Regions from separate parts of the Homo sapiens genome. Here all the other regions are linked to region 4. Evidence: fine-mapped expression QTL. A gene starts in region 4. Each other region holds a variant in brackets. All regions are shown on one strand. Distances are between the middles of the regions. Region 1 overlaps LRRFIP1 (LRR binding FLII interacting protein 1). Region 2 overlaps LRRFIP1 (LRR binding FLII interacting protein 1). Region 3 overlaps LRRFIP1 (LRR binding FLII interacting protein 1). Region 4 holds the start of LRRFIP1 (LRR binding FLII interacting protein 1). Region 5 overlaps LRRFIP1 (LRR binding FLII interacting protein 1). Region 6 overlaps LRRFIP1 (LRR binding FLII interacting protein 1). Region 7 overlaps LRRFIP1 (LRR binding FLII interacting protein 1).

What was found.
Region 1: its variant is fine-mapped to the expression of LRRFIP1 in whole blood (TOPMed, PIP above 0.99).
Region 2: its variant is fine-mapped to the expression of LRRFIP1 in whole blood (INTERVAL, PIP above 0.99).
Region 3: its variant is fine-mapped to the expression of LRRFIP1 in whole blood (TOPMed, PIP 0.98).
Region 5: its variant is fine-mapped to the expression of LRRFIP1 in whole blood (INTERVAL, PIP above 0.99).
Region 6: its variant is fine-mapped to the expression of LRRFIP1 in whole blood (TOPMed, PIP above 0.99).
Region 7: its variant is fine-mapped to the expression of LRRFIP1 in whole blood (TOPMed, PIP above 0.99).

The regions. Positions count from the first base shown.
Region 1 is chr2:237,654,524-237,658,590 of GRCh38, forward strand. All of the region lies in intron 1 of LRRFIP1 (LRR binding FLII interacting protein 1), which reads left to right. Among named protein-coding and RNA genes, the nearest start is that of LRRFIP1, 29 kb to the left of the region's middle. The variant A/G (reference allele first, on the strand shown) is at 2,347.
Region 2 is chr2:237,681,454-237,685,520 of GRCh38, forward strand. The region is part of intron 1 of LRRFIP1 (LRR binding FLII interacting protein 1); the gene reads left to right. Among named protein-coding and RNA genes, the nearest start is that of LRRFIP1, 56 kb to the left of the region's middle. The variant G/T (reference allele first, on the strand shown) is at 2,138.
Region 3 is chr2:237,692,288-237,696,349 of GRCh38, forward strand. The region is part of intron 1 of LRRFIP1 (LRR binding FLII interacting protein 1); the gene reads left to right. Among named protein-coding and RNA genes, the nearest start is that of LRRFIP1, 67 kb to the left of the region's middle. RefSeq lists a silencer at 1-231 and an enhancer at 2,295-2,474. The variant A/G (reference allele first, on the strand shown) is at 2,244.
Region 4 is chr2:237,625,908-237,629,974 of GRCh38, forward strand. LRRFIP1 (LRR binding FLII interacting protein 1) reads left to right here and starts at 1,680. Exons shown (of 24, transcript NM_001137550.2): 1 at 1,680-1,833. The coding sequence starts at 1,738.
Region 5 is chr2:237,762,751-237,766,817 of GRCh38, forward strand. All of the region lies in intron 19 of LRRFIP1 (LRR binding FLII interacting protein 1), which reads left to right. Among named protein-coding and RNA genes, the nearest start is that of RBM44, 34 kb to the right of the region's middle. The variant AACAC/A (reference allele first, on the strand shown) is at 2,528.
Region 6 is chr2:237,772,943-237,777,009 of GRCh38, forward strand. It overlaps LRRFIP1 (LRR binding FLII interacting protein 1), which reads left to right. Exons shown (of 24, transcript NM_001137550.2): 22 at 1-3; 23 at 1,416-1,520. Among named protein-coding and RNA genes, the nearest start is that of RBM44, 24 kb to the right of the region's middle. The variant A/G (reference allele first, on the strand shown) is at 1,785.
Region 7 is chr2:237,673,426-237,677,492 of GRCh38, forward strand. The region is part of intron 1 of LRRFIP1 (LRR binding FLII interacting protein 1); the gene reads left to right. Among named protein-coding and RNA genes, the nearest start is that of LRRFIP1, 48 kb to the left of the region's middle. RefSeq lists enhancers at 1-280, 1,401-1,695, 1,649-2,195, 1,752-1,891. The variant G/T (reference allele first, on the strand shown) is at 1,814.

The sequences.
Region 1 (4,067 bases), 29 kb after region 4:
GGATATGAAATCAGTATGTTGAAAATATTCCTTTTTTTTTTTTTTGAGACAGAATCTCACTCTGTCACTCAGGCTGGAGTGCAATGGCGCAATCTCTGCTCACTGCAACCTCCGCCTCACGGGTTCAAGTGATTCTCCTGCCTCAGCCTCCCGAGTAGCTGGGATTACAGGCACCTGCCAGCACGCCTGGCTACTTTTTGTATTTTTAGTAGAGATGGGTTTTCACCATGTTGGCCAGGCTGGTTTCGAACTCCTGACCTCCAGTGATCCCCTGCCTTGGCCTCCCAAAGTGCTGGGATTACAGGCGTGAGCCACCACTCCCGGCCTGTTGAAAATATATCTACACTCCCACATTCCCTGCAGCACTATTCACAATAACCAAGATATGGAATCAACCTAAGTGTCTAACAACAGATGAATAGATAAAGAAAATGTGGTATCGAGACACAATGGAGTACTCTTCAGCCTTCAACATGAAGGAGATCCTGTCATTTTCAACAGCATGGAGGAATCTGGAAGACACTATGATATGTCAAATAAACCAGGCACAGAAAGACGAATACCACGTGATCTCACTTCTTTTTTTTTTTTTTTTTTTTTTTTTTGAGACGGAGTCTCGCTCTGTCGCCCAGGCTGGAGTGCAGTGGCGGGATCTAGGCTCACTGTAAGCTTCGCCTCCCAGGTTCCCACCATTCTCCTGCCTCAGCCTCCCGAGTAGCTGGGACTACAGGCATGCATCACCATGCCCAGCTAATTTTTGTATTTTTTGTAAAGTTGGGTTTCACCGTGTTTGCCAGGCTGGTCTCAAATTCCTGACCTCAAATGATCTGCCCACCTCAGCCTCCCAAAGTGCTGGGATTACAGACATGAGCCACTGCACCCAGCCGTCACTCATCTTCTAATGGAAAGAATTTGCATTTATAAAAGAAGGATTGACATTTGTAATTTTTCTAAGAAATGGAATTTACAGTGCCAATATAGATGACTCTCAAATCTCACATCGCTGAGTGCTAAGTGAACTTCCTGTTGCTGTGAAAGTTAGCTACAAATCTGTCATATTTGAAGTGAGTTAGAAAGCATGTGGGGAAGATTGACTACATCTCCTGAATCCACTAAAGCTGATTTGGGTGCTCGTTTTGTGATTGGATATATATAGGACATCTTTTTAACTCCCTAATATGATATAACCAAAACCAGTTCTCTGTATTCTCTGTAGAAAACAACACGACAGGCCAGTGTTGACTGAAACCCAACCACATGAACAAAAAGGGCAAAGCCCAACGCTGTTAACCCTCAATGGAGATAATTAAAGACAAAACAAGAGAAATACTGCTTTATTTCTTACTAGGCTGCTAATGAAAAAGACTCACAATTCCACAAACAGGGTGGACATCGCTTTCCAGTTTACTCTTATCTTTTGAAATGTGAGTTATTGGTTCCCAGTTTGAGATTTATTCACTGAATCAACTGTCAGTCTTTTCATTGGGGTTATTTTCATTTTGTTTCATTTTGATTTTGACCTTAACTTCTGGAAACTATAATTGGGGAATAAAAGGTAAGGGGTGTCTCCTGATAGGAATTACATATGTAACGTAAATATATAGATACATCTATCTATCTATATGTAAGGTGGCAATGCATATATGTATTTAAAAAACTAAATAAAACAAAACCAAGATTGTCTAGGCAAATCAGTGCTATGTATAGAATTTCTCTTTGGTTATTTGGGATTGTAATCTTGTCTTTATGCAATTCAGGATTACACTGAGAAAAATTAAAGAAAATGTCAAAAGCTATTATACTGGGCAGGGGTAGGGCATGAGTTTAAAGATATTTGAGTATTTTCAATATATCCAAATCATATGTATGCATTTGTTTCTGCCCAATTTGTGAAATATATGGTTTATCATGTCTATCTAAATACTTGCTGAGGAAGGTAAGTTAACTAGTATTTACTGAGCAACTGTATAGGTAGGATTTTGTCTCAATTTCCAAGCAGTGGTTCTTGGCTGTGGCCCTGAGCTCTCTCAAGAACATGGTGCCTGGTATTCCTGCGTGCACACTGAGCATTGTCTAGGACAGAGCACCAAATATTTTATGGAATATCCATGTGACTCACGTATGATTATTCATAAATTACACATTAACTACCACAATAGAAGTTAATTCATTGTACAATATAAACAAAAGTAAATTTAAAGAGGCAAAAAATATAATCAGAAGAGCATGCATTTTACTTCAGAGAACTAGACAAAAATTAAATGTGCCTTGTGTCAGTATGTATTTTTACTTTTTAAACATTTGTAAGTACTATTTGTGATTAATAAAATGCAACTGCTCCTAAAA[A/G]CATTACTGAATTTATATGTCAATGGAAGTTCACTAATATAATGTGACATTCTGTGGAATTTTACAATGTTACGAAGATAACATAATTCATGATAGAAAACCACTATTCTAAGATTTTCATCTTCATCAAAGTAAACTTACCCATGAAGGGGCATTTTCTGAAGAAGAGCCCCCAAACCCTTGTTTGCAGTGGTGGGAAAAGGCTGGCGGTGGTAGGGGGCATCCTTGCACCATTTTGGTTTCAGTTACAGTGGAGCTGAGGTTGGATGAAGAATCACAGAAACAGGTCAAGTGTGAGGATGCACGTACCAGCCAGGCAGGGGAGCGAAGACAGAAATGGGAAACAGGAGCAAAATGAAACAGAAATAAAGAGAGGAAAATAATTTAACAGTGAGTAGACAGGCAAAGGCAACATATGTAAAATTGGAGTATTCTAAGAGGAAAACCTAAATAAATGGAACAATGAATATTTTCACATATGAATTAATAAGGCATTCCATAAAGAAGAGTCGAATCTCCACCATGCCCCAGAAAACATAGAGATAGTACAGTCACTACTGAAACAGTCTAATCGTGTTTTCAGATGGCCATGATAAAGAGGTTCTTGAGAAGACAGGCAAAAAACAACAACAACAACAACAAATCAAGATCAAATGGGAAAATATCCAACCTGGCCTCAATTTCTCCGTGGCAACATTCACTATTAGAAGAAAGTTATGGCAATGTCTACAAAGCCTTAAGGAAAGAAAGCGTGACAGAATTGTTCACGCTTCAAACTGTCATTCAAAAATAAAAGAGGAGAAAAATATATTTGTTTATATAGGCATATAATTCCCTAGAAGGATATGTAAAAAAATGAAATTCCATTTTTAAAAAATGCAAGGATTCAGGAATATCGTCCCCATAATTCCTTCTTGAATAAACTATTGAAGACAATGTCTTCCACCTGACATTGTTCCATGGAATCACTGAGATCCTTTATGAACCTGTAGGCTCAAGCCACAGCCCATATGAATTAAATTAGAAGCTCGGTGATAGCACTGAATTATCAATACTTTTTTAAACCCCAAGGTTCAGAACGAGTGCAACCAAGAGATAAGTGAAAGAAGTACACAAGAGAACTGGCAATGAGCGTTATTTAACTGTGGGACTAAGACAAGCATGGAAATCCTAAAACCAAGGAGAACCACCTAAAAAACTGTGACAAACAGTACAAGGATTTAGGAAGGCAGCTGGGTATAAGCTACTGCCCAGAAATCAATAGCCTCCATATATTCATGCAATAACCAGTTAGAAGACAGAATGGAAGAAAAGGCTTCATATCAATAGCTATAAAATATATAAAATACCAAGGAATAAGGTTGGCATGAGTGCAATTTATATAAAGAAATCTTTAAAACACTACTGAGAAACCAAAACTTTCAACAGCAGAAATGGCATACCATGTTCTTGGATAAGATGACTTAACACTATAAAAATATCAAACCTCACCAAGTTTATCTACATAATGCAGGTCCCAATAAAAATATTAATAGAATTTCTTTTGGTACCAGATAGCCTGGTTCTAAAACTTGTATGGAAAAATTAACAAGCAATAATAACCAAGAAATTTTTTCAAAAAGATTAGTAGGGGGCTGTGCATTAATCTGTTTTCATACTACTGTAAAGAACTGCCCAAGACTGGGTAATTTATAAAGGAAAGAGGTTTAATTGACTCACAG
Region 2 (4,067 bases), 56 kb after region 4:
CCTCCTGGGTTCAAGCGATTCTCCCACCTCTGCCTCCTGAGTAGCTGGCATTACAGGCCCATGCTACCATGCCTGTCTAATTTTTGCATTTTTAGTAGAGACGGGGTTTCACCACATTGGCCAGGCTGATCTTGAACTAGTGACCGCAGGTGATCTGCCTGCCTCAGCCTCCCAAAGTACTGGGATTACAGGTGTGAGCCACCGTGCCCGGCCGCAGTCCTATTCTTTTTTTTTTTTTTTTTTTGAGACGGAGTCTCGCTCTGTCGCCCAGGCTGGAGTGCAGTGGCGGGATCTCGGCTCACTGCAAGCTCCGCCTCCCGGGTTCACGCCATTCTCCTGCCTCAGCCTCCCAAGTAGCTGGGACTACAGGCGCCCGCCACTACGCCCGGCTAATTTTTTGTATTTTTAGTAGAGACGGGGTTTCACCGTTTTAGCTGGGATGGTCTCGATCTCCTGACCTCGTGATCCGCCCGCCTCGGCCTCCCAAAGTCCTATTCTTAATTGTGTTCATCTGAGGACTAAGAACTCCACAAGCTTGGCTTTGGGAATAGCAGTAAAGCAACAACACAGTGCTGGGCTCGAAGACGGACAGCTGCCTGAAAGACGGCAGAAGCTCCCTGAGTGTGCCAAAAGCACTGATGAAGTTTTAAACCTAGTCCAAGCTAACTGAGTGATGCTAGACCTTCCCGCAACTTCTCTAACCTGGATGTAAATTGTAATTCTAGAGCCCCTTGTTTTGCGGGAAAAAAATAATCTGTGTATGGTCAAATAGCAGATGGAATGAGCTGCCAGACGGAATCTTTTGCCAGTGCAACGGAACAAAGTACTTGTTCATGCCAGGCTCAGGTCCCCTGTTACTTGCAGTCCTCCGGGCAGTCCTGTCTGCTGGCTGTCTCTCTCCCTGCTTTACGTAGGAAGCTGGAAGAGGTCAGGGGATTTCCTTGAAATTACAGGCTAGTGAATGGCAGAACAGGAGCTCGAGCCTGATTATCTGCTAAACCTCTGCTTTGGAGCTTTGAGGCCTTCTGCACAGGTCACTTGCATTCTCTGTGTAGGGGTGCAGGGTTGTTTTCTCTCCCATCGGCTTACTCTTGGATTGGGCCTTCCCAGAGGTGCCGAGAAGCAAAACCCAGTTCTTTGATCTTCTCACTTCAGCTGTTCTTTCTTCCAGCCAACTTCCAGGATTACATCCCTTGGTGTGACCACACCACATCTGAAATCTCAACTCCCCACTTCCCACCCAGTGACCTGCACCTCCTGTCTTTCAATGCTCCTGGCGCTGACTTTCTTGCCGTCCCTGACAAGCAGCCCTGCCTTCAAGTTCTCACTGGATGAAAGAAGAAGGCAACAGATGTTAGATGCCGTGTGCACATATTCCCATCTTGACCATTCTTTCTGTGCATGCTTTGCTGTGGAACTGTTGGGGCCCCATCCAGCTGTATAAGCTGAGACATGAATGTGCTTCCACAGTGTGGGCACCTCGGATGCAGGTACAGGCCCCTCTAGATCCAGGGCCACTTGGCAATGTCTGAGATATTTTTGGTTGTAACAGCTGGGGTGGAGAGCGCTGCCAGCATCTGGTGGGTGGAGCCAGGAACGCGGCTAGCCATCCTGCAATGCACAGGACAGCCGCCCACGACAAGGAACTGTGCAACCCCAAACGTCAGGGGACCCTGCTCTTTATCAATCCTAGGGTTTCCCAAAAAGCCCGACAGCACATTTGATACAGATGCCACCAACGGGGTGGAGACAAGGGGCGAGGGCTTCAGTGGAATCTCAGCAACTAAAATCAAGCCGACGGTCAGGTCAGAGAAGCATTTGGAAAGCCTCCAGTGCGTTTAGGGGACCACGCCCTCTCATCATGCCAAGGCAGCTGCCCAGTGAGGTACAGGGTATAAAGGTGACGTGGTCAGGAGTGGCTATTTGATCTCCAGTTATTCCAGAATTTCCACTCTCGTGCCAAGCATGTCTCTCCAAATGGCTGCTCTCTGGCGTTCCTCACACTCCCCCTGAAGTTCATCTAAGATCTTCATTCTTCAAAGGTGAGGCTTGTATGTTCTATGTCCAAGTCTTCTCTAAAGATATCCAATTTGTACACATGGAGAACATTTTTTGTACTCGAATAGTTGATGACTTT[G/T]CTTTGAGCTATCTCTCAAGGGCCAAAGTGCAAAAGGGCAAACCCTTCTATTAGAGTGTGGGTCTATGTTTTTAGTGTTATGCCGAAGTGTGTTTTAGCCTTTATTTTCCTTTATGGAAATTCATTTTCTTGGAAAGATCATTTTGGGGATGCTGTTTTAGGATTTCTGTACCTTCAGCTGGAAGGATGCTCACCGTTCCTGATGTTCATGTCTGCCCTTCAGTCAGGGAGCCTGGAAGCCAAGTTGCTTAGTGGCAGTGCTTTACTTTTAAGCCTTCGAATACATCTTGAGTACCTTAAACTTCTCTGTATGCTATGGGTACTGTTTAAATTCAGATTATGGAGTCCTATTCTCCCCACACTTCTTTTTTTTGTGAATGACATTTATCAATGACATTTGTAGCGTGGTGGATTCTGAAGTTTTCAGCTAGTAGCGTAAAGATTTATTTCATGGCTCTGACTGTCAGGAATATTCTCTTTTCTAGAATGTTAAACTCATAGGCAGGATTACTGAGGCAAAGCCACATAAATGAGGGAATCTCTGGAAAAAATACATTGCTTTTATTTTGTACTAAAATTGCCATTTTTTTTTTTTTTTTGGCCAAGTATAGTGGCTCACACCTGTAATCCCAGCACTTTGGGAGGCCGAGGCGGGTAGATCTCTCGAGGCCAGGAATTCAAGACCAGCCTGGCCAACATGGTGAAACCCCATCTCTATTAAAAATACAAAAAAAAAGTAGTTGGGTGTGGTGGCACACACCTGTAGTCCCAGCTACTTGGGAGGCTGAAGCAGGAGAATCACTTGAACCCAGGAGGCGGAGGCTGCAGTGAGCCGAGATCACACCACTGCACACCAGCCTAGGCTACAGAGCAAGACTATCTCAAAAAAAACAAATTGCCATTTTCTATTCCTAAGTATATATTGAAGCATTTGATTTATTTCTTCTCAGTGGGGTATACTGTTAGCTGGTGAATGCAGTTGTTGAGGATGAAGCTTATTTCCCCATGTCAGCATCTATTCTGAACATTTTAAATGAACTATTCTGAGAGCATGTATAGATTTTTTTTTTCTTCACAGGAGAGCTGCCTTAGGAGGACTTTTCAGAGTTTGTGCCTGTAAGACTGAGAAATACATAATGGATTTTAGCTGTCGTGTTTTTAGAAGGTAATTGGTAGATATTTGCAGTGCATTGTCTTCATGAAAAACAAAATTGGGCCTGGTGCGGTGGCTCAGACCTGTAATTCCAACACTTTGGGAGGCCAAGGTTAGTGGATTGCTTGAGCCCAGGAGTTCAAGATCACCCTGGGCAACATGCTGAAACCCTGTCTCTGAAAAAAAAAAAAAAATTAGCCAGGCGTGGTGGTGCACACCTGCAGGCCTAGCTACTTGGGAGGCTGAGTTGGGAGGATAGCTTGAGACAAGGTTGCAGTGAGCCAAGGTTGTATGTAGTGAGCCAAGATTGTGCCATTGCACTCCAACCTGACACTCAACAGTGTGAGACCTTGTCTCCCTACCCTCCCCCCCCCACACAAAAAAACCCCAAAAATCAGAAGTGGTTTTCTTAGAGATGCTTTACTGGAGGTGTTTGTGGCCATTTCCTTGGCTACTGTGTATAGAGGAGGTTACTGTGGTCACTCTGGTATGGACTTAAAAAGCATCAATTCTGTGGAACACACTGGGAAAGCGGATACATTTAGGATTGCTATAGACTTATTCCTAGACACTTTTTGAGATGAGTTTAATTCCAGAGTAAAATACATTAGAAATTATTTTAAGTATGCCTCAGAGTGTATCACAAAACAACATTTAATGGTGTAATGTAACGCCATGGAAGGGCTCTGAGCTCAGGTACAGTGCACCTTGACTGGGACACATACAGCTCTGAGGCAGGTCCTTCAATATTGGGTCCTCCTGCTCCTTATCCTCCCT
Region 3 (4,062 bases), 66 kb after region 4:
CGCTCCCCGGCGGGCTGGCTCCTGGCCCCGGAAGCGCGAGCGTTCACTTAGCGGCGAGTGGCTCCGTCTCCGCGGACAGAGCGCGCGCCCCCTGGCCCGGCCCGCGAGGGGCTCCCGGCGCGGTCCCCGAGCATTTCCCGCCGGGTGGAGCGGGCCGAGCCCGGCAGGATGACCAGCCCCGCGGCCGCTCAAAGCCGGGAGATCGACTGTTTGAGCCCGGAAGCGCAGAAGCTGGTAAGAGGAAAGCGCTTCCGAAACTTTCTTTCGTGACTGCGGCGGGGTTTCAGGGGCTTCCAGCTCGTTCCGAGGTCAATGGCAGGCGCAGGTGCCCGGGAGGCGTGGGGTGGGCTCTGGCGGGACCCCAGCGCGGTGGGAGCGGGCGCAGTGGGCGCGGGTCCGTGAGTGGCCCGGCGAGCGGCGTCCCTCATGCGCTAGGAAGCACGCTTTATTGTGGGACGCCACCTCCAAGGACGAAAAGGCACATGGTCTCTCCCCGCCCGAGGTGATGGGCTGCAGACAGGCTCTGACCAGGTCTGCGCCTGGCCTGGAGTCACAGGGAGCTGCTAGTTTGCTATTTTACAAAATACAGCATCAAGGACCGGGTGGCCAGAGCCGGTGCCCTCACCCGCTGTTGGAACCACCGGGGAGCGGCTGGGGTGCTTTGGAGCACTCAACCCGCTCAGCACCTGGGGACCACCTCCGCCGAGGACTCCAGACGCCAAATCCACTTTGGCTAGTCTCCCGGGTCCGCCCAGCGCGGACAGGATCCTGCCTCTAGGATTTTGCCGTTGTCCAGCTCAATATGCAGTCGTGGGGCTACGGCTGTAGTTTGGCATTAAAATTGGGCAGGGGATGAGGCGGAGAGGGTTTGCAAATACACATTTTCATGCAGCTTGTGGTTGAACATGAATGGGAATAAAAGTGAAAGGGTGCACTTTGGAAAAGAAATATAAAACCCTAGCTTTCCACTTAATCAGGTGTTCGTGGGATCTTGGTAAAAGTATGAGCCCCAAACAATCACTCTTTCATCAGGTAGAAATTAATCATCTACTGGGTGTGTGTGTAAGATTTAAGATGAATCAGACTGCCTTGACCTTGGGAGAGCTTATTAGGAAATGCCAGAGAGAGGTGTAGAAGTAGAGTCTGATGAACTCATACTGAAAAGCCAGTTCTTTGCTTGTCAGATGGTTGCTGTTTTTTAAATGTCCATTTTAGTGTGGTTTTTCTGTGACTTCGTTTAAAACTCTGGCAGTGGGCCAGCCCTCTGGAGCCGGTTTTTACCCCTTCAACTAATTAGTTCCTAGGGGCCTGGGAAGAGAGACCCTTGAATCACCATCAGGGAAGGGTTCTTGAAAGAAGGAAGGGTGGGAATGTGGTTGAGCGGTGCCAGTGTTCTGAGGAGCAGCCTGGGACACCATAGATGGCAGGAGGAGGATGGAGGTGAAGAGCTGCCTGCTGGACTTAGAGTCCTTGGAGAAGGGAAGAGTAAACATTGAGAACAGGATGTGAGGAAACTAGGGACAGGCTAATCAGAGGAGTAGGTAGAGGCACACCTGGAGCAGCTAAGGCACTGGCTACAGGGTCTATTACTTAAGGCTGGGAGCCTCCTGGGCGGGTCTGGGTTCAGATGACTTCGAGATGCTGCCGGGAGGAAGGGAGAGGAAAGTCTGGACTGTGTCCAACTGAGTAGTTATGTGATCAGCCCAGGCCCACTGTCCCTCACCCCCAGTTCCAGAACCCAATAAGCTTTGAAGACCGGAAGGTTTGTGTTTTGTTTTGTTTTTATAAGTTTGTGGCAGAATTTTGGCAGTGAGACTTGCCCTGTCCAATGGGGGGCTAGTTTTGGTCTTCACTGATCCCTCTGAGTGTGAATTTTCTTACGTTTCTCTGCAGTCTTGTTGATGTCTTTGATTAAGGGCTGCTACTCTGGGTTGTACCAGAATATATGGTGTATGCATCTTACTACGTTTCTAATGTCCAAAAATGCTGAATTCTGAATCATGGCCCCAAGGGTTTTCAGAGAGAAGTTGTGAACCTGTAGGAGCTTTTCTTGGTAAATGGTAGCAAAAACTGTATCAGAGTGAGACATGGTGAACAAAAGCAAAATGCAGTTCCTGTTAAGAGGCTAATGTTCAGGTAGGGAAGGAAATGTGCTGAGTGGTGATGGGAATTGGGGGTCATCATGGGTGGGGGGTAGGGCGTCACCCAGCGGCTGCCCTGGGCCATGGGCTGGGTATAGGCAC[A/G]GGAAAGTGGTTGTGGGTGTTTCACACTGGTTTGTGCCAGTTCTTGCTCTGCATTGTGTCCGTGGGTTCAGGGATGGGTCTCCTGCGGAAAGGAGGGACTGGGGGCCGCACCCATGCAGAGGAGAGCCGGGTTGGTCAGAGGAAGTAGATTTGGCAAGCTCCACCTCAACTAGAAGACAAAAGCAGGATCTGAGTGGGAGCCTGGGCTTCTTCAGCAAGTGGGCACCAGCCCTGGAGCTGTAGGAGAGGGTCCGATGCGGACAGTGGAGACACTGTGCATTTCTGCAGCTTTTGTAACTTCCCTGTGTTTGCGATGGCTTGTGTCACCCCGCTCTCTTTCCACATACTGATTAGCATTCAGCCCTTCTAAATGACCAGCACTGTCCCAAGAAAGGGCTGTTAGGGGAGAGCGTGGACACACAGTCTCCCAAGTCCCATCTCATTATAGGTACCTGGGCCAGGGTCCCCAGGTGTGGGAGAGTGGAGTCTTGACCAATATGGGGATGAATCAGTTGGCACGAGGCGGGCTGGCCCTGCTCTAGCTCAGTCTGAGATGGTGGAGCGTGGAATCATATGGTGTGTGTTTTAGGCATGTCATTTCCCCGGGCAGGTAAGACATAAATATAGTAAGGTAGGTCTTTTCTAGTAGTATTGAGAGTGTCCTACTGGGGCAAAGATGGAGACTAAATTTCCCTTTTTCTTTAAGAGTCAGTTTCTGTTCAGCCTGAGTTAATATCCCACAGCGGAAGCCTCCTTAGCAAATTTCAAAAAACCCTGCAGTCTCAACTGCCACTTATGCTGAGCACAGGAAATCAAGTTATTTATAGTTGCAGAACGGTGTTTCAGCGAAGTTGATTGGAGAGTTACCTGATTATAGTGAGATTCTTATCCAATCCCTACAGAATTGTGAGACTAAATGTTGGTGCAGCATGTTTGGTCCTCAAAAGGCAATGTCCAAGAGGAACTTCTTATCCCCGAAAAATCAGGCTGTGTGACTCAGCAAAGGAATTGTTTATGACTGGTTACTCATATGCCAGTGCTTCCAGAATATCTGCTCGTATTTAAAGGAGTGATCTTGAAGCCCCAGAGGCCATAATGTTTAGATTACCAACCTCTTCACCAATCAGTAAGTCCATTACATCTCACTACGTGTTAGACATGGGACAGGAGAAGAGGATTTTTATTACCTCACTGTTATTACTGGAGGCCGCCCAAATTTGTTTTTTGTTTTTTTTTTTTAAATAAAGAAGCTTGTTTTCATGGAATGGACTTACTAGAACTTTTATTATTCAGACTACCTAGATAAAATTAAGTAAATTCGTTTCTTTCTCCCAAATTAAATATTTTGACTACATGCAAGATTTAATCATTCAAAATTGCCATGTATTTGATTATAGACCAGTAGTATAATCCCCCTGCCCCAGGCCAGATTCCAAAACAATAAACCAAAACACACACACACCTGGCAACAGAAATTATATGTATTCCGAGACTCATTCATTCATTTTGGAAAGGGCCAGTGTTTCCAGTGGTTTCTCCTTGGGATTGTAACTTTACAACTTTAAAACTAGGTAAGTAGTTTTCCCTTGAATCTAAAGTATAACTACTTTGTAGTAGAGAAGTAATTTATCTTAAATCACTATAATGAAGATTTACTCTTAATTTTAACCAAAATGTTTCATTTATTTGTGTAATGAAGATGATCAAAGCAACGCCACCTGTGATCCTTCTGTCTTTTTTACTGTATGTGGCACGTGGCTGTGTGATTTTCCTAGGGAAAGGAGTGGGCTTTCCCTGTGGGTTGAGAACCTCTGTCCCC
Region 4 (4,067 bases):
AGAGGCAGCAGCCGTGTCTGCCTCTCGGACAGCTATGCCCCAGCCTCCAGCTCAGCAGCTGGCAGGCAGCAGGTGTGGGTGCAGGAATGAGTGAACTCATGGGGACCAGCCTCGGCAAAGACGCACAGTCCCCACAGTGCCCCAGGGGCTGGGAAACAGTGAGCAGCCACCAGCAAGACCAAGGCAGTGCAAGTGGCCACGGCTCAAGGTTTCCCCCAAGGAGGACTATGTCACTTAAGGAGTATGGCCTCTGAAGTAATGTAAATATGGCCTGGAAGATTCAGTCAACACCTATTTCCTTAGTGCCTACAATGTGCAGGTGCAGTTTCTGCTCCCGGAGTTCAGTCATGAACAATGCCACAGTCAGCCCTGCCAACCCACCTGCGTCAGCTCAGGCACCCAGAGCAATGTCACCTGGATCTGCCCTCCCTCCCATGTCACTGGACTCGCTGTCTTTTCCCTGCAATGAAACCTCCAACAGCTTTCCCTGCCACTGTGGGTGGAAGGGCCCTCTTCCTCTTCCCACCTTCATACAGCTTCCAGGCCACCTCCTTAAGAATCCAAAGCAATCTGGTCACACCACTTGGTGGGAAATACACCGAAATGTTAACTGTCCTTATCACTGGGGGAAAAAAATCACAGGTGACTTCAGTACAGCCTCCTCTCCTCTACCATCACTACCCTCCCTCCCATCCTTCCCCAGGTCCAGCCACACTGAAGTTCTCCCCATACCCCAAACACACCAGTAACTTTCCCACCCGGTGCTCCTGCCGTGCCCTAGGCAGGGGCTTTTAACCCCTACCTAATCCTCCGATTTGCTTTACTTTTAAATCCACCTCTGGAGCATAGACTGTGAGCTTCAGAGAGCACAGGTAAGTTCATTACTTTTTCAACAACTAGGAGAGAGCTGCGACGCACCTGCCCCGATCCTAGAGGCTGGGGACCCACCAGAGAAGTGACAAGTCCTTGATCTCAGGGGGCAGACAGCGGGGAGAAGGATGGATGCTAGCACGGAGAACACGCGTGTAAAGACAGAAACGCACACATCCACACCATGCCGCTGTGAAGCCGGCGCCCAGGAGGCTGGCCAAGGTCACAGGAGCGGCGGTGGCGGGCGGATCCGAGCACCTCTCGGCCTGACCCCAGAGCCTAGCTCTCACCCCGGCGAGGGACTTCCACCCCGACTCACCGCGGAATGGGGAGCGCCAGGCTGAACCAAATCCTGTGCTCACCCCTCCGTGCAAACCCCTCAAGGCAACTCAGGCCTCTGAAAGCCTTCCTACCCCCCCGCTCTCCGCTCAGGTCCCCACTCAACCGGTGCCCACCGCCCTGGCGCGCGTCGCTCCGCGATTACCGGCCCGCCAAACAGTCCCCGCAAAGTCCACCCTCCGGGGCTCCCGGTCCCTCAGGTCCCGCGTGCCCGGCCCTGGGCATCCGCAGCGTCCCCGTGGTATCGGACCCCCATCGTCCCTGACACCTGGCGTCTCCGCCCCCCGCCCCCGTCCCCCGCCCCGCCGTCCCTGGCCCCTGCAGTCCCTGGCCCGCGCTGCGGACCTCCGGCTCTGGCTTCCCCCGGGTCCCCGCGGCCCCCGTCCCCCCGCGTCCCCGCGTCCCCGGCCCAGCGCCCGCTGACGCCATGACGCCGCGGCGGAGGGAGGGGCCGGGGCCGGGGCCGGGCCGGGGCGGCGCGAGCGGCTGGAGCAACGGGCCCCGCGGCAGCTGCGGGCGACGCGGTCGATGGACATGGGCACCCAGGGATCGGGGCGCAAGCGGCTCCCCAACCGGGAGCGGCTCACGGCGGAGGACGACGCGCTCAACCAGATCGCGCGGGAGGTGAGCGCTCCGGGAGGGCAGCCGGGGGGCGCCGGGCGGGCGCGGGGGCCGGACGGCTGTCAGGGTCTCTCCGGCGTCCGTCTGTCCCGCTGTGCGTCTGTGCCACTGCGCGTCCGGCTCCAGGCGGGTGGGCCGGGCAGGCGCGCGCCGGGGCGCTGATCCCCAGGCGCTGCGCCCCGGCCCCGATCTCCGAGGCCTGCGGACCCCGCACCCGTTCTCCAGCCCCGGGCCCAGCCCGCGACGCTGCGCGCCCTCCCCCACCCCGGCCACCGTCGGCCGCTGCGCCCTCGGGAGAGGAGCCGGGCGCCGCCAGCGCGCGAGGTGGCCCGGGCTGGCCGGGTGGGGGCGAGCGCCCCGCTTTGTTGTGCGGCATGGGAGGAGGCGGGGGCTTAGGCCCGACCTGGAGGCAGTGGACGGTCGCCGGAGGCCACATGGCCCTGCTGAAATGGCCGAGTCGCTCAGGTGACCATTTGTCATCCATCCATCGATGTCACTCAAGGTGCAGCTCAGAGATGAACTTGGGGATCACTGTGATTTTTCTTTCAGGACTGAGCCTGGAAACGGGTCCAGGCACACTGAAACGTCTTCATTAAAGTTTCCTGGACAGAGTTTATTGTAACTAAGATCATGTTTGGTGATGAACTTTACCTGTGACAAATTGAAGGCGCACTAGAATGGGTATTTGTACAAATGCCTTTTTTTTTTTCCTTCCGCAAGGATTCTACCTTAAGGCTAAAGAATGTACATGACATCCAGAAAGCCGTACAGGGACAGAGAGCAGCAGCTTGGGAAAAGGGGAGCCAATAGGTTGCGGCCCCAGGGGGACAAAGGAAGCTTAATTTTTGACTGTGTTCCCTTTGTACCATTTGAACTGTGTGCCAGGTGGGTGTATGAATGCAAAGAAAGTCTCTGCCTTGTAACCCGCCTTACAGGTTCTTTTCCGTGTTGGCTTTTCCACATGTGATTCTTCCCACAGGAAACACCTCCAAGCCATTTGGACTGTGGTGTCTGGCTGTATCCGTCAGATATTCTGGGGGATCTACTCTGTAACCAATCCTTAGGTGTTTGTAGTTGTAAATACCTGATTTTGCTCTTACGGACATGTGGCAGTCACTCAGTATTTGTTGACTACTGAGTGAATAAAGACTTCTGTTTTTCTCTGTATGATACAGAAAAGGGCTTTCCAGGCAAACCCTTATTCATTCCTGGAAGCCCACTGTGACCTCCAGGAGACCTTCCAGACTCAGCCCTCTCACATCGCACCAGGCCTAAGTCTCCCTGGCTCCACGGCCCTCCATGGCATGCCCGCGCCTGGCATGGCAGTCAGGATACCTTATCATTATTTGTCCACCTGTAGAAGGTGACACCCAGACAGGAAATATCTTACTTTTGTATCCCAAGAGCTCAGCACAGAGCCAGGCACATACTAGGTGTTTGTCTATGTCTGTTACATTAATTAATAAACAAAAGAAGTACAAGGCATTTAAAGGACCTTTGGCTAAATATAGACATTTGCTAAATATAGTAGCTTGAGTATAACTCCCTCCTGTGAAGACAGTCACTTATGTATGCATTTGACCACAGTGCCTTACAAGTGTTCCCTGCAAGGGCCAGAGGTGGCCAGTGAATCGCAAGCCTTGTCTTGATGTCAGTGGTTATGGGGCAGAAGAATGAGAAGAATGAAAATTTCCAGAGTTTGCCTTTTATCCACTGGTGTTTCTTTCTTCTTTTTTTTTTTTTTTTTTTTTTTTAACACAGTCTCACTCTGTTGCCCAGGCTGGAGTACAGTGGTATGATCTCGGCTCACTGCAACCTCCACCTCCCAGGCTCAAGAGATCCTCCTGCCTCAGCCTCACCAGTAGCTGGGATTACAGGCACGCACCACCACACCCGGCTAATTTTTGTATTTTTAATAGAGACGGGGTTTCACCGTGTTGGCCAGGCTGGTCTCAAACTCCTGGCCTCAAGTGATCTTCCCGCCTTGGCCTCTCAAAGTGCTGGGATTACAGGCGTAAGCCACTGCGCCCAGCCTATCTGCTGGTTTTTATAAAATAGATTGAAAAGGAAGGCAAGGGAACACTCCTTGGGTTGAGAGCCCTGAGGTCCTCCCTCCCACCGAGGGAGATGCAGTTGGAGTTACAGAGATAGACTTGTGAGTCAGAGCTGGGCTTTCAAATGACATAGTTCTTAGCCAGCTGTGCCATCCTAGGAAGGTGAGTTACTCACTCTTCTCT
Region 5 (4,067 bases), 140 kb after region 4:
CGAGGACCAGAAATCCTCTGAAGACACTGCCCCATTCCTAGGAACCTTAGCAGGTGCTACCTATGAGGAACAGGTTCAAAGCCAAATTCTTGAGAGCAGTTCTCTCCCTGAAAACACAGTACAGGTTGAGTCAAATGAGGTCATGGGTGCACCAGATGACAGGACCAGAACTCCCCTTGAGCCATCCAACTGTTGGAGTGACTTAGATGGTGGGAACCACACAGAGAATGTGGGAGAGGCAGCAGTGACTCAGGTTGAAGAGCAGGCAGGCACAGTGGCCTCGTGTCCTTTAGGGCATAGTGATGACACAGTTTATCATGATGACAAATGTATGGTAGAGGTCCCCCAAGAGTTAGAGACAAGCACAGGGCATAGTTTAGAGAAAGAATTCACCAACCAGGAAGCAGCTGAGCCCAAGGAGGTTCCAGCGCACAGTACAGAAGTAGGTAGGGATCACAACGAAGAAGAGGGTGAAGAAACAGGATTAAGGGACGAGAAACCAATCAAGACAGAAGTTCCTGGTTCTCCAGCAGGAACTGAGGGCAACTGTCAGGAAGCGACAGGTCCAAGTACAGTAGACACTCAAAATGAACCCTTAGATATGAAAGAGCCCGATGAAGAAAAGAGTGACCAACAGGGAGAGGCATTGGACTCATCGCAGAAGAAGACAAAGAACAAGAAAAAGAAAAACAAGAAGAAAAAATCCCCAGTACCCGTAGAAACCCTTAAAGATGTTAAAAAAGAGTTAACGTATCAGAACACAGATTTAAGTGAAATTAAGGAAGAAGAGCAGGTAAAGTCTACTGACAGAAAGTCAGCAGTGGAAGCCCAAAACGAGGTGACTGAAAATCCAAAACAGAAAATTGCAGCAGAAAGCAGTGAAAATGTTGATTGTCCGGAGAATCCTAAAATTAAGTTGGATGGAAAACTTGACCAAGAAGGTGATGATGTACAAACAGCAGCTGAGGAGGTACTAGCTGATGGAGACACATTAGATTTTGAGGATGACACCGTTCAATCATCAGGCCCGAGGGCTGGTGGTGAAGAATTAGATGAAGGTGTTGCAAAAGATAATGCTAAAATAGATGGTGCCACTCAAAGCAGTCCTGCAGAACCAAAGAGCGAAGACGCAGATCGCTGCACCCTGCCCGAACATGAAAGTCCCTCACAGGACATTAGTGATGCCTGTGAAGCAGAAAGTACAGAGAGGTGTGAGATGTCAGAACATCCAAGTCAGACCGTCAGGAAAGCTTTAGACAGCAATAGCCTAGAGAACGATGACTTGTCGGCACCAGGAAGAGAGCCAGGGCACTTCAATCCAGAAAGCAGAGAAGATACCAGAGGAGGGAATGAGAAGGGCAAAAGCAAAGAAGACTGTACCATGTCCTAAGCTGAGGCAGGCGGCAGGCGCGGTGCACAGGAAGTCTCAGTGTGAAGGGGTCTTTTCTCTCCACTGCCAATGTAAGTAGAATGTTCTAAATTCATAGAGAGGCACTGTATGACAATTACCAGGTGCTCTACTGCTTTAAGTTATAGACTGTTACTTGTAGATTTCCATGTAATCATTGAGGTTATCACCCAGATTAGAAAGACATATTTGTTATCAGTGTACGTTCTAATTGAGAGCATTCCAGTAGTATCAAACAATAATGTCTACTGTTTATAGTCCACTTAATAAAAATAGAGGCATTTACTATTTGCCTTAGGCTGATAGGAATGTGGGTTTTCTTGACCAAATATATCAGCATCTAATTGAAATGACCAAATAGCATTCTTAGACTTCTGTATTATGAATATAATTGATATTTAAATTAATGTCTTGTTCACATATGTGTACTTTCATATTTGATTTTAAAATGTACATTATAACCTGTATGGTATTTTATTTAAAGGAGATAAACAGCCAAATAGCAAATAGGTCACTGAATGATAAGATTTGCACCTTAGAACAATAATCATTTTAAGGATAACAAGTAAATGTCTGAAAGCATGAGGGGCTTTATTTGCCTTTACCTCATATGAGTCTTTGATCTTGAACCGATACTTTTGGATCTCATTGTTGATATACCTGAATTTACTTTGTAAGAGATTTTAACTTCACTTCATGCTGATGATGTATCAAATTCATTTTATAGAAAGATTTAAAGTTTTTTTCTGGAAGTGATATATGTCAAATTACATTTCCTACTGCAGTATTTGAGCAGGGACAGTCATTTTTTAAATGTTTTTGGCCGGGCGTGGTGGCTCATGCCTGTAATCTCAGTACATTGGGAGGCCAAGGCAGGTGGATCACCTGAGGTCAAGAGTTCGAGGCCAGCCTGGCCAACATGGTGAAACCCTGTCTCTACTAAAAATACAAAAAATTGGCCGGGCGTGATGGTGGGCGCCTGTAATCCCAGCCACTCCAGAGGCTGAGGCAGGAGAATCGCTTGAACCTGCGAGGCAGAGATTGCAGTGAGCCAAGATCAAGCCATTGTACTCCAGCCTGGACAACAAGAGCGAAACTCTGTCTAAAAAAAAAAAAAAA[AACAC/A]ACACACACACAACACAATGTTTTCACGCCTGTAAACCTAGCACATTGGGAAGCCAAGGTGGGAGGATTGCTTGAGGCCAGGAGTTCAAGGCTGCAGTGAGCTATGATTGCACACTGTACTCTAGCCTGGGAGACAGAGTGAGACACTGTCTCTAAAAAAAAAAAAAAAAAAAAAAAAAGTTTTTGAACCTTAAAATACTTTGTTTGAATTTCTAATCATCATTCAAAAGAGCAGTAAAAAATGGTTACTTGTTCTTGTACAAGCTACTAATTAGACTATAGTAGGATATTTTAAAGAGCTGAATCACTTTTGGTATTTTGGTATAAATATTTTCATTTGTTATGTCCCAGTATATTCTTACTGGAAAATTCTTGTTTTGATCTGCCTGAAGAAAATATCTGTTTTCTATATAAAAAAATTTTTTAAAATAATTGTAAAGTTAGATTTAAAATTGTAAAATATAAAATCACAAAGGAATGTACCTTATGAATGTTGTTGACATTTTATGAAATTATGTGGATTCATATTACTGTTACAAGATAGAATTGAATGCAAAAAGACCAAAACCTCAATAAAATTTGAGGAAAACGTGTTATTATGTAATTGAAATAAAAACATTTTATAATTGTGCAAGCCTGTGGTTCCACTCTTTGGGCTGCTTGAAGTCTGAGTCTGACTACTGTTGTATGTAATACCACCTTTGAGTAATATCTGCTTGGGGGTTGCTGATTCCTATTGGGGTTCCGTGGAAGACCCACGCCTGATGCCCTCCCTCAGTAAGGAATGCACTTCCCTCCTGGCATCGAGCCTGGGGCTAGCATGGGCATTACTGGGAGAACTGAGACGATTGTCACGCACCATCCCCTGTGATCTGTGGTTCTGATGTGCAGCCTCAGCTGAAAACGGTCTTCACCTGTGGCTGTGCTTACCTGCGCCACTACTTACAGTGTTTTGAAGAGCAGGATGAAAACGGCAAAAACCTTGACTGTTTCTGCTCAAGTGTCCTGAAGTAGAGGATGGTGGGGATGATAAATGCTTGCTAGGAAATAAGTCCAAGGGCTCTATAGGACTTCACAGGGTTTTAGTTTATGTCTCTAACTTTAGCAAAGCTGCATTCCTATTGGAATGCATACTGGAAACAGCTCTCATTCCTACCTTTAAAGGGCTCTTGGAAAGCAGTGTGACAACCAAGGTCACTAAATGGTGAGATCATCAAGCCATTTTAAGTTCTTTCTCATGTTATTCACCAGCACCCTGCAGGACGTTGGGCACACATCACATCCCTCAGCTCAGCCATCCAGCCGTCTCAGTGATTCACCACTCATTTGCTTAATTAATAGACAGGTTTGATCACTTTGTACATGGAAGGCACTGTGCCAGTGAACAAGCAGTTGGACCCAGCCCTCCAGTAGGGAATGGACAGCTGAAAATCCATGAGCAAGAAAGAAGGAAAAAGAAAGAGTTCTGAGCAGCCAAACCATTTCTCGATGATTTCAGAGCCTTCATTCTGAGCATCAGTTATATGCTCTCCAGTG
Region 6 (4,067 bases), 150 kb after region 4:
AATGTACGTGTAAGCAACAACGGGCAGAACTGATGATTGACTGGAGTTTTACTTGCTAGAAATAGCCCTGAAAGGCTGAGGACCAGAAAAAGCCGAGATTTTTAGAACCAAGAAATGTCCTAAGAGGGATAAGTTAAGACAGCAAGTCTTTCCATCCGTTTCTTACAGAGCAAGCAGGAAGGAAAGAATTCTTAGAATTTAAGTTGTTACAGTAGATACTAATCCTTTATCAACAACAGTTAGTTGTAGAAAATAGCTAATGTGGCTTGGGAGTGTTTTAAAATTTTGTTCTTTAAAATTAATTTAGTTAATTGGCCGAGCGCAGTGGCTCACACCTGTAATCCCAGCACTTTGGGAGGCTGAGATGGGTGGATCACTGAAGGTCGAGAGTTCGAGACCAGCCTGGCCAACATAGTGAAACCCCGTCTCTACTAAAAATACAAAAATTAGCCGGGCATGGTGGCAGGCGCCTGTAATCTCAGCTACTCAGGAGGCTGAAGCAGGAGAATCGCTTGAACCAGGGTGGCAGAGGTTGCAGTGAGCCGAGATCACGCCACTGCACTCCAGCCTGGGCAACAGCGAGACTCTGTCTCAAAAATAAAATAAAATAAATAAATAAATAATGTAGCTAATTAAAAAAACACATCATACTGGGACGTCCCTCTTGCCTGGGCTTTTAGCCTTTCTCTTGCAGCGAGGCCCGCCCTCCCTGGTGTCTAGACATGGGGCACTCCTGCCTCTAGCACCCTGGGCCCTAGGGCAATTTGTGTTCTAGCCAGAAAGAGAGAAAAAAAACAGGACTGTTTCCCCCTCCATTGTGGGTGTACTTGGCTGGAACTTTTTAGAATGTTTATAGAAACAAAAATGAGAACAGCACAGGTAGAGACGATGTGTGCTTTTGATTGCGGCAGAGTGAAGGTGTCCAGCAGGCCTTCGCTGCTGCCGTCTTTCATCTCAGAACCTTGGCTGGGGAATGCCATGCCGAAGCCGCCTCCTTTCACTCCTCGCCCTGTCCTTTCCTCCTCCCACCCCCGCCACCCCAGGAGAGATTAGACTGGAGCTGAGGTCGTGGCGGAACACGTCCCTTACCAGCACCATTCTGCCTGTTCCAACAGAACAGCCCCACGCAGCGGGAGAAGAAGCAGGCAGCAAGGTGCCAGCACTGCAGAAACCACCCTGGTGGACGGGGTCAGAGGAAATGGGTCCCCATCATGTCAGCACAGGGTCGCCCAGAAATAGTAACCAAGAATAGCTTGCTTGGCTCAAACCCACACCATAGTCCAAAATGTTATAAGTATTTACATGGTGTATTCTCCCATTTTATTAAATCACACTCTTTGATCTCAAAGTAAAGAAACTGAAGAAAGAAAACAGGCTTATCAATTTATACATATGGTTTTTTTTCTACCTTTTAGGTAATAAGGTTAGAGAGTCAAGTATCACGTTACAAATCAGCGGCTGAAAATGCAGAAAAAATAGAAGATGAACTTAAGGCAGAAAAACGGAAACTCCAAAGAGAGGTAAATTTCCTAGGCAATTTCTAGGAAGAGAATGGCTGCCAGTATTTCTCTAGTGGGGACGGTACAGAGAGGATTTACTACTGTGACATCTGCCCCTGGGCTGGTCATTGTCAGATCATCCCACACCACTCTGCAGTGCCGGTGTCTTAATAAAGGAAGGCATGGCGCAGCCAGTTAGGGCTTAGGGCTAGACCCTTGCTGGCATCAACTAGTTCATCTGTCAGTTTTGAGCATCTCCTATAGGTCTTGTCCGTAAACGTCAAG[A/G]GAATGAGATAAAGGAGTAGCCAGGCCTCTTATGCTCCGAATATTTTTTGTGTCATGCAGAATGAGCCCAGGTGGAGGACCAGGAGCCCATGGGCCTGCTGTGGCCAAGAGCTGGGTGTGGCACCAGGGCCAGGCCACAGCTGTCTCAGGTCACCCTATGGAGAGTGCCCTTGAGAAGCCGAGCTGCTGTTACTCCACCTGCTGGTCACACTCCCAAATTACCATGCTTGCCAATTAAAACACATACTTTACCTTACTGAAGACACTTGGCAAAGTTGTTTGTTCAACAAATATTTACAGCACCCGTTGCATGCCGGGCACGGGTTCAGGTGCTGGAGATGCAGCTGTGACCTTACAGACAGGAGTCTCCGCCTCCATAGAGCCTGTGCTCTGGAAGAGGGAGGTCCATAAAAGTGACCACAGGCAGGAGAGGGGCTGGGGTGCGGAATGGCCCAGGCCAGGGCAGTTCTAGGTAGGTGGCCAAGGAAGACTTTCCTTCTTGTGGCATATAAGGACAGGCCTGAACAGCCCAGGGAGTGAGCCAGGCAGAACTGGGAGAAAGCCTTCCGCGCAAAGGATCAGCACGTGCAGGGGAGCTCGGGGCAAGGCACTGCCTTTGTCAAGGAACAGTCAGAGCGGTGGAGGCCAAGTGAGCAGGGGGTGAGGGGGTGGAGGGAGCAGTGAGAGCACCTCAGCCCGTGAGGCAGGGCCCTGGAGGCCATGGACAGGACTTGGGATCCTCCTGTGCATAAAGTGGGAGCTACTGCAGGGTTTTGAGCAAAGGAGTGGCTTATGTTGATTTATGTTTCAATAGGATCACTCGGGCCGGGCGCGGTGGCTCACGCCTATAATCCCAGCACTTTGGGAGGCCAAGGTGAGCAAATCGCTTGAGCTCAGGAGTTCAAGACCAGTGTGGGCAACATAGTGAAAACCTGTCTTTACATAAAGTGCAAAAAAACTAATTAGCCGGGTGCGGTGGCCCGTGCCTGTAGTCTCAGCTACTTGGGAGGCTGAGGCAGGAGGATTGCTTGAGCCTGGGAGGTGAAAGCTGCTTTGACACATGAGCGTGCCACTGCACTCCAGCATGGGGCGACAGAGTGAGACCGTTTTTCATTAAAAAAAAGGAAAGAATCACTCATTTTATATTTAAACTGTAGGAAAGGGACTGTGGAGGAGAAACCAAAGATGCCATTTCTCTCCTCTTTATTTTATTTATTTATTTATTTTATTTGATTTTATTTTATTTATTTATTTTTTTGAGACGGAGTCTGACTCTTGCCCAGGCTGGAGTGCAATGGCGCCATCTCGGCTCACTGCAACCTCCACCTCCCAGGTTCAAGCCTCCCACCTCAGCCTCTCGAGTAGCCGGAAATACAGGCACCCACCATCATGCCTGGCTAATTTTTGTGTTTTTGTAGAGACGGGGTTTCTCCATGTTGGCCAGGCTGGTCTTGAACTCCTGACCTCAGGTGATCCTCCTGCCTTGGCCTCCCAAAGTGCTGGGATTACAGGCATGAGCCACCATGCCTGGCCCATTTAACCTTCTAGCCTACTTTTGCTATGGTCAGAGAACATGGTCCCTGTTATACCTGGTCTTTGAAATTTGTCAATACTTGCTTAATGGCCTGATACATGATTCACTTTTGTAAATGTCTCCAATGTGGTTAAGAAGAATGTGTAGTCTCTGATTTATGGATGCAAAATTCTGTATACTTCCACTGATCAAACTTGTGAAGTGTGCATTCAGATCTGATTTCTTTTGTCTGCTTAAATTCTCAGTAGCTGATAGAGATTTGTCAAGCTCTTCCAAAAGATGATGGTGGATTTATCTCATTCTCCCTATTTCTCCTATATATGTTGAGGCTATTGATACTAGATGTTTAAAATTCTGATATCTTCTTGATGAGTTAAACCTTTTATCACTTTGTAGTGACCCTTTTGGTCCCTGCTGCTGTTGACCTTGTCGGGTATTCACGTGGCCGCATCAGCTTTCTTTTGGTTAGTGTTTGTCCACTTCTGATTTTTGCATCCCTTGGCTTCCAGTCTTCCGTGTGTTGTTATGCGTTAGATGATCTCCTTCAGATGCACATAGCTAGGTGGCGGTGGCTCTTAGTTGAATCTGGAATCTGTGGATCTTAATAGAGCCCTTAGTCCATTGTTATTGGTATATTTGGACTCGTTTTCACCATCTGACTGTGGATAACCATTTGTTCTGTCTTTTGTGTGTCATTTTTCTCTTGCCAAATTTAAATTTTATATTCAATTTCTATTCTTTTCAGTGAT
Region 7 (4,067 bases), 48 kb after region 4:
AGATTCACCTTCTCCCTGCACCTCTGCACTTCCCTCTGGGTTTCCTGTCTGTACATCCAGTGCCGCGCGTGGCGTGGGGCGTGGCGTGGGGTGGTTCCTCACAGTTACCCTCGCTGGGTGTGCGGTTGTCTGACATCAGTCCTCCCCAGAAAGTGCGGCTGCCCCCGGTCGGTCGTTCTGTCTGTAGCTGGCGTGGTATCTGGCACGGCGGAGGCCCTGGGTCCGTGTTTGTGGATGGAATGAATCAATGTGTGAATGAAGGAAGTCACATTGGCAGCAGTGGCGGGGAGGGTACCGTTTGGGGACAATTCAGATCATTCTGAGGAGACATGCTGAGGCCTGCTCTAAGACAGCAGCTGTGGGAGGGCACGGAGTGGCATTAAGAGAGGAAGCTGACTCGATGACGGGCGGAGAGGTGGGCGGAGGCTGTCTCAGGAGCGCCAGCAGCTGGCAGTGAGTGGTGGGCGTTTCCTGACACTAAGGCTCTGTGCAGAGCGCGTCTACAAACACTGTCTATTGTCTCGTTTCATCCTCACAACAACCACCCCTATGAAGTTGTCACTATTATTGTCTCTCCTTTACACATGAGTCTGGGCACAGGGACTTCAAGTGAAGCCTGCTAGGAGGCACTGCTGCTGCCCCCGCGGGAAGGAAATGCAGGGAAGGGACTCAGGGGGCAGCAGGAATTCTGCTTTGGATCTGTCACATTTGAGGTGCCTTTGGGGCTTCCAGGAAGAGGTGTCCAGACGGCAGGGGCTGAGGCTTGGAGGAGTCAGGATTGGAAATATGAACTGGGTGCCCATCAACATCTAGGTCGTGGTCAAAGTGGGTGGTGGGGTATTACAGGAAAGAGCTCTGCAGCCCCCCAGAATCCTAGCCTGCGCCCGCAGATGAGCAGGGGCAAGGACGCAAGGGCAGTTGTGCATTTTCCTTCTTTTCTGTGGCATTCAGAAATAGGCAAAATGTGATACACTGCAAAAGTGACTGTTTGCTATCTGCAGGAGTGGCCATCAGTGTTAGTTAAATGAGAGCTGTGCAGAATGGCATGTGTTTGTCCTCTTATTATTTTTGCTTTAAAAACCTGTTTTAAAACCCTGGTATCAATGGTCAATTATGTGACTTTCAAAAGCAAAAATTAAGGAAGACAAAAGAACTGCATTTGACACCTTGAAAGGCCCAGAGGGATTCTTAACCTTGGGTCCAAGAATTCCCCCAGGGGCCTTTGGATAGATTTCCAGAGATCCCCGAAACTGAATAGGAATAAAAGGGTAGCATTACCTTCCATTATGAATGCGGGCAAAAACCTTCGGTAGTATTAGAAGTGTGACCTCAGCACCAATAGAAACCACAGGTATTTCTCCGTCACTTTCGGGTTGTTGCTGAGAGCTGGGGAAATGGTTTCATGCATCACTGTCAGTATTTGGTGGAATAAGGACGTGCACGCACGTGCTGGCTGTTGAACTGTTGCCTCTCCACTGCAAACCCTCCCTTCCTTGCTGCAGGGCCAGAGCTGTGCCCTATCGGGCCCTGCCCCCAGAGAGAGCCTGGGCAGTGGGAGGAGGGAGCCCGGAGCACGCTGCTTCCTGCCTGCTTCCTGTTTCTGTGAGCGTCACCCCAGCAACGGGATTTCACCCTGGCTGCAGTTGTTGGTTCTGTTTCTAGTGTTTTTCACACGCCCAGACACCACCCTCACCAGTCCCTCCTGAGCCCCCGCTCTGAGGTCCGGGTCCCCACTCCAAGCCTTCTGGGACCATCACCCCGGTCTTTGTCTCCAGCCCTAGCTGTTCCTGAGATGACGCCTCTGTGGTATGAG[G/T]CCTCCTTTGCTTTTTCGGCCAAGCAACACCTGTTTAGGGGCTGCCTGTATTGCTTCTATTGAAATCACTGCTGTAATTTCTTTTTCTCCTGACTTGGCTCTGATTGATACACTATATCAGGATTTAAAAATATTTTTTGACAATGTGTTTCAGAATAATCAGTTTCCTTCGTAACCCTATGTTTCGTTACATGCGTTTAAAAATATTATTCCAAGAATGCTCCACAGGCTTCACCAGCCTGCCAGGGGGATCCACTATACCAAAAAACAGAGAGCTGAGAGCAGTTGCCAGCCTGATTAATTGCCGTTTCCTGGGCTGGGTTTAAATGCCTCTAGGAACACAAAACATAAAGGGTTTTCTTTCTGTTCTTCCTCCCTTTCTTTTCGAATGAAGTTATGGAAGGAAATGAACTTTGTTATTTTCCCCCTTTAAAAGTAGTACCTGCTCATGGAAGAAAAAAGAACACTGGAAAAGAAAAGTAAAGAAAAAAATATCTCTATCTTCCTTGTGACATAAAAACACCCATGGCTCCATTTTGATGTATTTCCTTAGGGCCTTAGGTGTTGTTTATTTTTGCAGAGATATAATTGTCATAATCTTTGTCATAAGCATTTCCAATTCTACTTCATACTTGTCTTAAACACTATTTTTATAGCTGGACAGGATGCTGTAAAGCAGTAGGTTGACCTGGCCCTTTTCTTATAATGTAAAACTTTGACCATAATTTTATTGTGATAAAATATTTCTAAGATTTACCATTTTAACCATTTTTAGGTGTAAAGTTCAGTGGTTTTAAGTGCGCTAGTGTGTAGCCATCACCATCATCCACTTCCAAAACTTTTTCATCTTCCCAAACTGAAATTCTGTACACATTAAACACTGACTCCCCAAATTCACAGAGCTGAAGGTGGAGTGGGCATTGCTTTCCCCAGCCCTTGGCAACTCCCATGCAACTTTCTGTCTCCATGAATTTGATTAACGTAAATTTTTACTACTGAGCTTCGCTTTTCCAATAAAAGTTCAAGGTACATAGTTTAAATGTACATACTTTAATGCAAGCAGTATTGCATGACACCAGCCTGCCTTCTTTCGTCCTTTTTAAAAAATTAGACCAGAAACTGTTGTTGAATCCCATGTTGCCGGTCCTGATGGTTATCTTTCTAGTGAGACCCGAAAATTCACGTGGGGACATGACAGCTTTCCATTTTCATGAATTGCAAATGTGGAGGGCTCATGGTAGGGAGATGGTTTTATTTTTGTGGGTTTTGTTTCGTTTTGTTTTTTGAGACAGAGACTCGCTCTGTCACACAGGCTGGAGTTCAGTGACACGATCTCGGCTCATTGCAACCTCCGCCTCTCCGGTTCAAGGGATTCCCGTGCCTCAGCCTCCTGAGTAGCTGGAATTATAGATGGGCAACATACCTGGCTAATTTTTGTATTTTTAGTAGAGATTGGGTTTCACCCTGTTGGCCAGGCTGGTCTCAAACTCCTGGCCTCAAGTGATCTGCCCATCTCAGCCTCCCAAAGTGCTGGGATTACAGGCGTGAGCCACAGTGCCCGGCCCAGGAGATGGTTTTAAAACAGAGATGTGCCCTGGTTGCCTTCTCTGAAAGTTTCTCTCCACACAGATCTCCTGACCTTTGGTGTGGCTGATTTCACGTGGAGTCTGTTGGATTCGCACCATCTGGCTCCTGTTTTCTGGGGAAACTCTGCGCTGGCTTTCGTCTTCCTCCTTTTGTGATTACATAAACAAAAGGGTAAATTGTTTTCTTAAACGTTAGTTTTAAATTGTGCTAAAATACACATAACAAAGTTTGCCATCTTAACTATTTTTAAGTGTACATTTCAGTGACATCAAGTATACTCACCCTCTTGTGCAGCCAGCACCACCAGCCATCCCCAGAACTTCTTCATCTTGCAGAACTGAAACTCTGCCCCCATTAAACGCTGACTCCCCATTCTCTTCTCCATCCAGCCCTGGCACCCATCATTCTACTTTGTCTTGATGAATAGTATGAGGTACCTCATCTAGTTGGAATCATACAGCATTTGTCCTTTTGTGACTAGCTGATTTCACTTAGCATGATGTCCTCAAGGTTTTCTCACATTTTAGCAGATGACAGCATTTCCTTCCTTTTTAATTCTGAGTTAAATTCCACTATGTATCTATACTACATTGTGTTTCTCCATTCAGCCATCAGTGGACACTTGGGTTGCTTCTACCTACAAAAGACCAAATTATTTTGTCCATTT